Regions from separate parts of the Homo sapiens genome. Here region 2 is linked to region 1. The links come from fine-mapping of genetic effects on plasma protein levels. Region 1 holds a variant in brackets. A gene starts in the other region. All regions are shown on their forward strands.

Region 1 (5,393 bases):
TTTATAATTTGGCATGATTTTGCAGTGGCTGGTACCGGTTGTTCCTTTCCATGTTTAGTGCTTCCTTCAGGAGCTCTTGTAAGGCAGGCCTGGTGGTGACAAAATCTCTCAGCATTTGCTTGTCTGTAAAGTATTTTATTTCTCCTTCATTTATGAAGCTTAGTTTGGCTGGATATGAGATTCTGGGTTGAAAATTCTTTTCTTTAAGAATGTTGAATAGTGGCCCCCACTCTCTTCTGGCTCATAGAGTTTCTGCTGAGAGATCTGCTGTTAGTCTGATGGGTTTCCCTTTGTGGGTAACCCGGCCTTTCTCTCTGGCTGCCCTTAACATTTTTTCCTTCATTTCAACTTTGGTGAATCTGACAATTATGTGTCTTGGTGTTGCTCTTCTCGAGGAGTATCTTTGTGATGTTCTCTGTATTTCCTGAATTTGAATGTTGGCCTGCCTTGCTAGGTTGGGGAAGTTCTCCTGGATAATATCCTACAGAGTATTTTCCAGCTTGCTTCCATTCTCCCTGTCACTTTCAGGTACACCAATCAAACATAGATTTGGTCTTTTCACATAGTCCCATATTTCTTGGAGGCTTTGTTCATTTCTTTTTACTCTTTTTTCTCTAAACTTCTCTTCTCACTTCATTTCACTTCTCTTCTCACTTCATTTCATTAATTTGATCTTCAATCACTGATACCCTTTCTTTCACTTGATTGAATCGGCTACTGAAGCTTGTGCATGCGTCACATAGTTCTAGTGCCATGGTTTTCAGCTCCATCCGGTTATTTAAGGTCTTCTCTACACTGTTTATTCTAGTTAGCCATTCATCTAATCTTTTTTCAAGGTTTTTAGCTTCCTTGCAATGGGTTCGAACATCCTCCTTTAGCTCGGAGAAGTTTGTTATTACTGATCTTCTGAAGCCTACTTCTGTCAACTCGTCAAAGTCATTCTCCATCCAGCTTTGTTCTGTTGCTGGCAAGAGGCTGTGATCCTTTGGAGGAGAAGAGGCACTCTGATTTTTAAAATTTTCAGCTTTTCTGCTTTGGTTCCTCCCCATCTTTGTGGTTTTATCTACCTTTGGTGTTTGATGATGGTGACCTACAGATGGGGTTTTGGTGTGGTTGTCCTTTTTGTTGATGTGGATGCTATTCCTTTCTGTTTGTTAGTTTTCCTTCCAACAGTCAAGTCCCTCAGCTGCAGGACAAGTGATCCTTCCACCTTGGCCTCGCAAAGTGCTGAGATTACACCTGTGAGCCACTGCACCTGGCTGATCTTTTGAAATTTACTAAGACTTATGTGTTCTAACAGAATGTGCCAGGTGCAAATAAGAATATTGTGTATCCACTTGCTTTTGACTGGAGAGTTCTGTACATGTCTGTTTAGCCTATTTGGTTTGTGATATGGTGTAGATGCCCTCCAAATCCCATATTGAAATGTAATCTCCAGTGTTGGATGTGGGGCCTAATGAGAGCTGTTTGCATCGTGGAGACAAATCCCTTATGGATGACTTGGCACAATCCCCTTGGTAATCATAGAGTTCTCACTCTCTTAATTCACATGAGAGCTGCTTGCTTAAAGGAACTTGGTTCCTCCACCTCACACTCGCATCATCTTTCACCATGTGACATGTTTGGTTCTTTTTTGACTTCCACTGTAATTGTAAGCTTCCTCATATCCTCACCAGAAGCAGATGCTGGCATATACTTCTTTTACAGTCTACTGAACTGTGAACCAAAGAAATCTTTTTCTTTATAAATTACCCAGTCTCAGGTTATTTTCTGTAGCATTGCAAAATGAATTCATACACAGTATAATGTTATTCAGGCTTTCTGTTTTTTAATTGATATTTTATTTAAATTTTTTATTCATTATTGAAAGTGAGGTCTTAATGTTTATAATTTTATGTTGCTATTTTATTTCTTGCTTCATTTTTGTCAATATTTGCTTTATATATTTTGAAGCCGTGATGTTATATATGCCTATACATATAGATAGACATAATAGTTATAGATTCCTAGTAAATGGACTCATTTTACCATTATATAATATCAATCTTTGTCTCATGCTAGTAATTGACTCATTTTCTTTTGTGTGTCTATAAAGATTTTTTTCTTTATGCTACATTAGAGATTTTATAAAACCTGTTAAAGTTACAACAGTACATTTTAAACTGGTAAAAAAAAAATGACTTCAGTTGCATAGAAAAATTTGTCCGCATTATATCTACCCTATACTTCTTATTGATATTGCTAATTGTATATTTTTATGTTTTATGATTATTTTTATGCTTATATCTTTCAAATTTTAAAGAATAACTAAAAATGTTTTCGGCACCATCACAATAATGCCACGGAATTTTATTTTTTTATATATGCATGTTTTTCAGAAAGTTATGTATTTTCATATGATTATATATTCTTCGTCATATTATTTTAAGTGGAAAGACCT[C/A]TTTTCAGCATTTTATTTAGGGTACATGCAGTGCTTATATGCTTTTTCAGCATTTGTTTATTCTGGAAGATCTTTATTTTTTTCTTTATTTTGTAGTACATTTTTGCTGATTACATTATTCTCACAATGAAGATTCTTTTTCAGCCTTTGACCATTTAACACAGTTCTTTTCTGACCTGCAAGGTTTCTGTTGACAAATTCACTGGTTGTCTCGGAGGACTAGGCTTATAAATAATACCTCACTTTTATCTTGCAGCTCCCAAGATTATCTTCTGGTTTGTGACTTTTGAAACTTTGCTTAAATATGTGTTATGGATCTTTTTGTGTATATCCTAGTTTGTTTGTTTAGCTTCTTCATTTTTTACATTACTTTTTTCATACTTTAAAATTATTTCACTTATTCTTTTTTACTTCCACAATTGTTTATTTTTATTATTCCAAGCCTTTTGTTGACATTCTCATTTATCTGATATCTGGTTTTCCATTTTTCTCATTGAGCAAAATACGGATTATCTTAAATTTTAAAAATTAATATATACATCTTTATTTTTATAGTTGCTTTTTGAAAATTTTGATTTTTTTGATTGGACCTTGTTGCCCAAATATTTTGTATACATTATAATCTTTGGTTGAGATTTAGACATTAACATAAAACTACCTTTCACAATCTTTATAATGCAGCTCTTTTCTGGCATAGCCTGAAACCAATTGTATTGGGTAGAGATTCTGGGAGTCTTGCAAACATGTTCTCAGGATGTGTCTTGTCTGCAATTTTGTATTTATTTTTCAGTTAAAAGACTTCTTCATATTTCTTATTACTGGTCAATAACTACTTTCTACACCTATTTTCTGTCCATGGTACTTCAGTCTTTCTGCTGTTGTAACATTCACTTTTGATCACAGAAGACTTAAAGCTGTCATTAAAGACACCATGTTCTTCTACTGGGGATGAGGAAGGGCTGTGTTGGGCAAATGTAGCAGACTTTTCTTTTCTTTCTATATGGCTTTTGACATTGTGCTCACATGGGGCACACACTTATTCTATAAATTTCCAACAAAGGTATTTTGATCACTATGATTTTGTTAGGTTTATACATCTATGAAGGAATTATGGCCTGTGGTAATTTGATATGCCATTTTGCTAGTGTGCCTTGTATAATTTTATATATTCGATTTGTAAAGTATATTCATCTGAGTCTAGTAAGTGGAGTAACTTGTGATTTTTATGTCTTTCAGTTACGTGTTCTCATTTCACCCAAGACCTTCATCCAGAGCAGGGCATAAAACATTCACTCCAAAAAGTAATACCAAGAACATATGGAAAATGTGGACATGAGAATTTACAATTTAAAAAATGCTGTAAAAGTGTGGGTGAGTGTGAGGTGCACAAAGGAGGTTATAATGAAGTTAAGCAATGTTTGTCAAATACCCAAAACAAAATATTTCAGACTCATAAGTGTGTCATAGTCTTTGGTAAATTTTCAAATTGCAATAGACATGAAACAAGATATACTGGAAAGAAACATTTCAAATGTAAAAAATATGGCAAATCGTTTTGCATGCCTTCACACCTAAATCAACATCAGATAATTCATACTAAGGAGAAGTCCTACAAATGTGAAGAATGCGGCAAATCCTTTAAACGCTCCTCAAACTGTACTACACATAAAAGAATTCATACTGGAGAGAAACCCTACAGATGTGAGGAATGTGGCAAAGCCTTTAGGTGGCCCTCAAACCTTACTAGACATAAGAGAATTCATACTGGAGAGAAACCCTACACATGTGAAGAATGTGGCCAAGCTTTTAGGCGCTCCTCAACACTTACTAACCACAAGAGAATTCATACTGGAGAGAGACCCTACAAATGTGAAGAATGTGGCAAAGCCTTTAGCGTATCCTCAACCCTCAATGACCACAAGAGAATTCATACTGGAGAGAAACCCTACACATGTGAAGAATGTGGCAGAGCCTTTAACTGCTCCTCAACCCTTAAGACACATAAGAGAATTCATACTGGAGAGAAACCCTACAAATGTGAAGAATGTGACAAAGCTTTTAAGAGGCATTCAAGTCTTGCTAAACATAAGATAATTCATACTGGAGAGAAACCCTACAAAAGTAAATAATGTGGCAAATTCTAGCCCTCAGGCCTTATAATACATACAATAATTTATGCTGGAAAAAAACACTACAAGTGTAGAGAATATGGACAAACCTTTAACAAGTTCCAAACCTTAATAGAAAATAAGAGAATCCATATTGGACAAAAATTTTATAAATGTAAAAAAATGTAACAAAGCCTTTGACCAACCCTCAAACCTTAATGAACCCAAGAGAATTTATTTAAAAAAAATATTTTTTTGAGATGGTATCTCCCTTTGTCACCCAGGCTGCAGTGCAGTGGCACAAACTCAGCTCACTGTAACCTCTGCCTTCCAGGTTCAAGTGATTCTCCTCCCTCAGCCTCCTGAGTAGCTGGGACTATAGGCATGTGCCACCACACTGGCTGATTTTTGCATTTTTAGTAGAGATGGAGTTTCACCATGTTGGCTAGGCTGGTCTCGAACTCCTAACCTCAGGTGATCCACCTGCCTCAGCCTCCCAAAACCTAAGAGAATTTATATTAGAGATACCCTAGAAAGGTTAAAAAAAAAAAGTGAAAAAACCTTTAAGCACATCTCAGGCCTTACACAATATCTGTTAATTCATTCTAGAGAGAAATCCTACAAAAGCAAAGAATGTGGTAACGCTTTTAACTAGTCTTGAACCCTTATTATACATAAGAGATGTAATACTTAAGAGAAACCCTACAATAAGGAATATGGCAATGTCTTTAAAAAGTCCTCAAACCTGAATAAATGTAAGATAATTGATATTGGAGAGAACCCCTGAAACTGTAGAAAAAAATGTGGCAAAGCCTTTAACTGGTTTCCATCCTTATTAATTAAAA
Region 2 (5,393 bases), not on the chromosome of region 1:
ATACAAATTTATTAAAGTTTTGAAAATCATGGATAGGCCAGGCACAGTGGCTCATTCCTATAATCCTAACATTTTGGGAGACTGAGGTGAGAGCACATAACTTGAGCCCAGGAGTTCAAGATCAGCCTGGAAAGCACAGTGAGACCTCATCTCTACTAAAAACAAACAAACAAAAACAAAACATAATTAGCTGGGCATGGTGGCAAGTGCCTGTAGTCCCAGCTACTCAGGAGGCTGAGGTGGGATGATCATTTGAGCCTAGGAGTTTGAGGCAGCAGTGAACTATGATCACAGCACTGCATTCCAGCCTGGGTGACAGAAAGAGACCCTGTCTCTAAAACAAACAAACAAACAGACAAACAAAAAACAAAAAAATAAAATCATGGGCAAACTCATTAATCATTTTACCCTTGACAACATAAAAATGATTGGCATGATAAAATATTCACATTAAAATCAATGATTTAACACTTACTGTTGGTTTTCTGAGCAGGATGAAATATCTACTTTATCTTTAGAAAGAAAGAAGGTGGAAGGTTTAGAGCAGCATATATATTACACATATTCCTGTTTTGTCAAACTCTGGTTTTGTTAAATAAATCTAAGTCAACAAAGTTCTGAAGTAGTATTTTTCATACCAGTAACCTTAAACTTCATTGTCAGTTGTCTGATAATGCTTTTGACATTATTTGCTTCCCACATAGTTTTTAACATGAGTAAGTAAATCATGCCCTCCCTTTCTAATCAGTTCTCCCTTCTCCTTAGGCACACGATAATCTGCATGTGGCCTTTTTGGACTAGTATTTCTATATTGACAACCCAAGACAGGTTAACTACTGTGAAGGTTACCAGGATTCTGCCTTATAGCTGAACTCTCATAGTTCAGCTGTCTATGATTTTTACTTTCTAATTATCAACTACCTGTAGCTTATTGGTTACGGGTGCATTCTTTGGAAACCATCAGGTCTGGGAAATCTATGCCAAGCTTCAGTGTTTTTCTTATGTAAAATGTAGATTTTTATATCACAGGTTTTTGCTTTGAAGACTGGAAGGGACAATGTATGTAACACCTCTAATACAATAAACACATTATGCACATAATACAAATAAACGGAAATTATTCATGTTTTTATTATCTTTTGCAATGTCTGCTAGTTTGTTGAGCTCATAAGAGCTTTCTATAAACATATGCTGTTTGATTGAATTGCTAATTACTAAGTGTTTAAGAGACATGTGTTTCCTTCCAGGTGTTATAGGAAAATACAATCAGTATAATCTAATTCGAGATTCACATGTTCAAGGCCTGGTTCTATTAGACACCTTCTGGCTGACTTTAGGAAAATGCTCTAACATCTGGGCTGTTGTATCCTCATCAGCTCATTGAAAGCCATACACAGGAGCCTGAAGAGTTTTGTATAGCTCAATCACCCAGTGTATGCATCTGATGAGCCAGAATTCTATAATAGGCCATGATGCCATACTCTCCTCTTTGCTGCTCTTCTCTCTCATAACCTCAACCATCTAACCTATACTCATCTTCATTGAGTCAATGAAAGCAATGTCACTGTTGGTGAGAGTATATTCAAGGAAAAATATTTTTTTCTATTCCATATAATTACATTTTATTCCTTTAAACCCATATTGATATATAGTTGAAAAGTTGGCTACCATTTTTTTTCTTTGCTACTTACTAATGGTGAAGTACTGTGCTCTTTCTTGCAGGTGTTTTAAGATCAGGATGACATGGTTTTCCTAGAGTGTCTTTAGGAGGGCCATGGTGTATAATTTTATAACCCTAGAACAAGGAAACAAAATATTTAAAATAAAGATGTGAAGAATACCCTTATAGATGGTATCTATAATCTTTGTCACAAACTTAAATTTTGACTCAATTGTTTAGTATTGTTTCTAATAATTTACTGTATTTATTTGATTTCAGCGTTAAGACCATATTGTCCTTCTGAGGTCAGATTGTATTTCAACGCCCTGATATTTCCTTCAAACACTAACAAAAAAGTGGACTTCTTGAAGTTCAGTAACTACTAGTTGGCTAACTTGCTTGGAAAATTGCAACCTTTTTTCAAGACTCCCAACCCCTTATCTAGGACTTCAACCCATTCTTTAAAAGATCATTTCCATAAGCAGTGTCCCACATGGTAAGTATTAACTACGTGGATTTGGGGGTAACAGCTTTGTCTCTTCATTTTTTTTTTAAATTCTGGAAGCCAATAGATGATATAAAGTCCAGCAGAGTCAATGACCCCAACTCTAATTGTTATTACAGTTTCTAATAACTGTACATTCAAAACATCAATTAGAAACTAAGAGTCTTAATTTGACTTCGTAAAAAGCAGATTGAGAAATGACTTCAGGCTTCTACTATGATTCAATGGGTCTTATGTACTTAGAATGATTTCTCTTTTAAGGTAGGTAAAGAGTTTCAATAGACTAAACATAGAGAAGCATGTTGAAAGTTATGGTAGGTCGGCGCTAAGCAACAAAATTGAACTCTCAGTCTGCCCGGCATTAGCTATGTGCCCTCCAGATGCCGGAAGAGGAGCGAAGGAGGATCAGAAACCCCCTCACCTCAACGATGGTTCTCTCCCCTGTGCTTCACCCCACCTCCCCGTCCCTAGCCATTTCTAGTCTCCAATCCGGGTCTTACATTTACCCTGGCTCCAGAGCACAGACCTTCCTGCAGTTGGGCCGGCGCGTTGCGGCGTTGAGGAGCTGCGGCGCGCCCCTCTCACCGCGATTGTTCACTTGCCAGGCGCCACGTGTGGGCGACGTCACTGGGCTTTATGCTTTCATCGCCGCTATCTGCCTACGTGAGCTGCTCTCCTCCCATCGCCCCCGCCTCCCCTACTACGGAGAAAATCTTGCACGTTTTCCCTTGTGAAAAGCAGAGTTCTCTTTTTCTCATTACCACCAGTTGATGAGGAAAGAAAATGTCTGTTCGCATACCTGCGCCGTACTAGGAGGAGGAGGGAGGTCATATAAGGATTCGGGTTGCCCAGGGGGTGGCTTGAAAAAGGAGGCGTTCGCATTCAAACAAGAATGCCTGAATTAATGTAGTTCAATTTAAAGAGCTAATTAGGAGTCCACAGGTGCTTAAGTTTGCAGTGCGCTGCCAGTGTCATGCCAACGACGCACTCCAGTTACACAGGTTGTCAGTTTCAGGCTCCCTCATAAACACTTCATGTTCTTGTCCCTCTTCCCCGTTGGCAACAGTTTTATGGTGAGAAAATTCACGAAGAGTAACAGGAACAACTCTTATGAAAATACGCAGAACTCCTGACCCAAGGCTACTGGCTGCAAGTTTAGCATACGTATCAAGCATGGGTTAAAGACATGTTTTCTCTCTCAGAAGGCGGATGAGTAATAGGTGCATTTTCTTCTATTCACAGTTGTTTTCAAAGCGAAAAGGAGTGAATTCGCTTATGACCTAGAGGAAGAGAGATGGGTCAAAAGATGTCAAGCCAAGGATTAATATCCGTCATACCTTGGTTCTCTGTAAGCCATGCAATAAGAGGCTTGAGATTTCACCAACTCTGGAGACTCACTTGGGCACAACTGAAACTATAACAAACTTGGTGCTCAGTGCCATTTTCCTTTGGCAGTGTTACAAGGTAATTTCAAGGGATCAGCACACAGACATTGTTTTAGTTTTCTTTTGCTGCTTATTTCAGTTCATGCAGCACTGACTAAAAATTTTGGAATTTAGACTGCTTAACGCTTATATCTACATCCAATATCAAAATTCATTACTGACAGTTTGCCTTTCTAAATATTTATGAAATCTAGTCCTCAATCTGTCCCTCACTTCTATATTCATGTTTTCACCATATCTTGCTTAAGTTATTAATTGGACATTTCAAATACCTATATGCACAAAATCTCTGCCTACCTATTTGTTCTTTCTTTCTAGTGCCGAACAATTCATTCTCAGCACTATAATAGTCTATCATTTACTGTGAATATCTTATTTTTCATTTTTGGAGAAGAGTCATTCCTGTAATTATTACTTGTTCCCATATTCACATTGATGATATCAGAATGAGAGCAACTTGAGCGCTGTGGTGCCAGATATTGTTGGTGAACCTGAATTTCAGAAATTGGCTATGTCTGTCTTGATTATTGCTGTATCTCCAAAACTAACACAATACCAAATATAGGTGGTAGTTTGTAAATATTTGTTAAGTGAGTAAATATTGACCCGACATAGATTCTTAGAAAATACAGAAAAAAGGACATAAAATCTCTTTCTTCTAAGACTCATAGTACTATGAGAGAAAGGAGTATGTATATGAATAAGTAAAGAATACTATTAGGTAGTGTAGTTTAATGCTAAGTAGGGCGACCAAAAATATATACAGTAATTGAGAGTTCTGTGAGTTGATATGATCTGGGTAAAACCTAGGAAAGTTTTGACATTTGAACTGTTATTGAATAATGCGTATGGCTTGATTTGAAGGGAGAAAGAGTTGAAGAACAAAAGCAGATAAATCATTATATCACAAGGCATATTCAAGACAGAAAGACTGTTGAAAAGGTTGGGGAAACTTTGTATAGAAGTCTAAGGAGATTTGCTTCTCTGTATAACATGGGAAAGTAATTTCATTGACATTTTGGAGGGTTGGGAAATTCTTTGATCAAAAGAATGTTTCATAAAAGCCACCTGATCTCACTGCATGGGGTGATTTACAGAGCTGAGAAATTGATGGCAGCAAAAATAAGTGTGGTAACAATTCCCCAGATTAATTTTGTAGTAGTAGAAATAGGACAAAAGGGTGGAATATGAAGAGATTTTTAAAAAGTGTTGATAGATTTTGTATGAAGGGCAAATCCAGAATAGAAGACTTGTAAGTTTGGTGCCTGAATGTGTTGGAGAGCACATGGAAAGTAGATCTCCATTACTGAGAGGAATAGTACAGGTACTTCTAAGAACATTGCCAGGAGTCCTTTGCTTTTCTAGAAGGGCATCATTTGTTAGTTCCTTTTTCTATGGTTTGGAGTAAAAGAAGCAATGATTAGAAATGCATTCCTCATAGTAGGCTCTATAGCAGATTCTACTGTATAGGATATAGTTAAATACCAGACTTTAAATTCTCTTGTGAAAATTATGATAGAATTGGCTGAATAGAGAAGTATCTGTGCAGCTGCTGGCACTTGTGGCCTATGGAGAAATACATCAGATGAAGACTATAGAGATTTAGCTGTAGAGGATAAATGAAGAGATTGCTTAGTTAAGTAAGTAGACTCTTTAGCTCATTTTTTGATCTATTTAATTTTAGGTGGTTTGGTTTATGGGTAACCTGGGTAAAGAGCATACTCCAAACTCTTGGTATTATCCTCCCGATAGTCATAATAATAGTTTCCCTGGTACACTGTAT

Alleles and levels. Alleles are on the strand shown, and positions count from the first base shown. The strength of an association depends on the size of the effect and on how common the allele is.
In carriers of allele C in region 1, the plasma level of the protein whose gene starts at base 2,734 in region 2 tends to be lower than with A alone (weak association).

The links. PIP is the chance, under the fine-mapping model, that this variant and not a neighbour inherited with it causes the effect. Protein levels are from antibody-based Olink assays in UK Biobank. Linkage for the fine-mapping came from a reference panel and not from the study's own genotypes, which makes the PIPs less certain.
Region 2: CRISP2 starts here. The variant in region 1 is fine-mapped to the plasma level of the CRISP2 protein (UK Biobank, PIP above 0.99).

The regions. Positions count from the first base shown.
Region 1 is chr7:64,011,352-64,016,744 of GRCh38, forward strand. ZNF722 (zinc finger protein 722) reads left to right here. Exons shown (of 4, transcript NM_001396012.1): 4 at 3,677-5,393. The coding sequence ends at 4,569. Among named protein-coding and RNA genes, the nearest start is that of ZNF722, 15 kb to the left of the region's middle. The variant C/A (reference allele first, on the strand shown) is at 2,441.
Region 2 is chr6:49,710,810-49,716,202 of GRCh38, forward strand. CRISP2 (cysteine rich secretory protein 2) reads right to left here and starts at 2,734. Exons shown (of 10, transcript NM_003296.4): 1 at 2,666-2,734; 2 at 1,692-1,795; 3 at 476-512.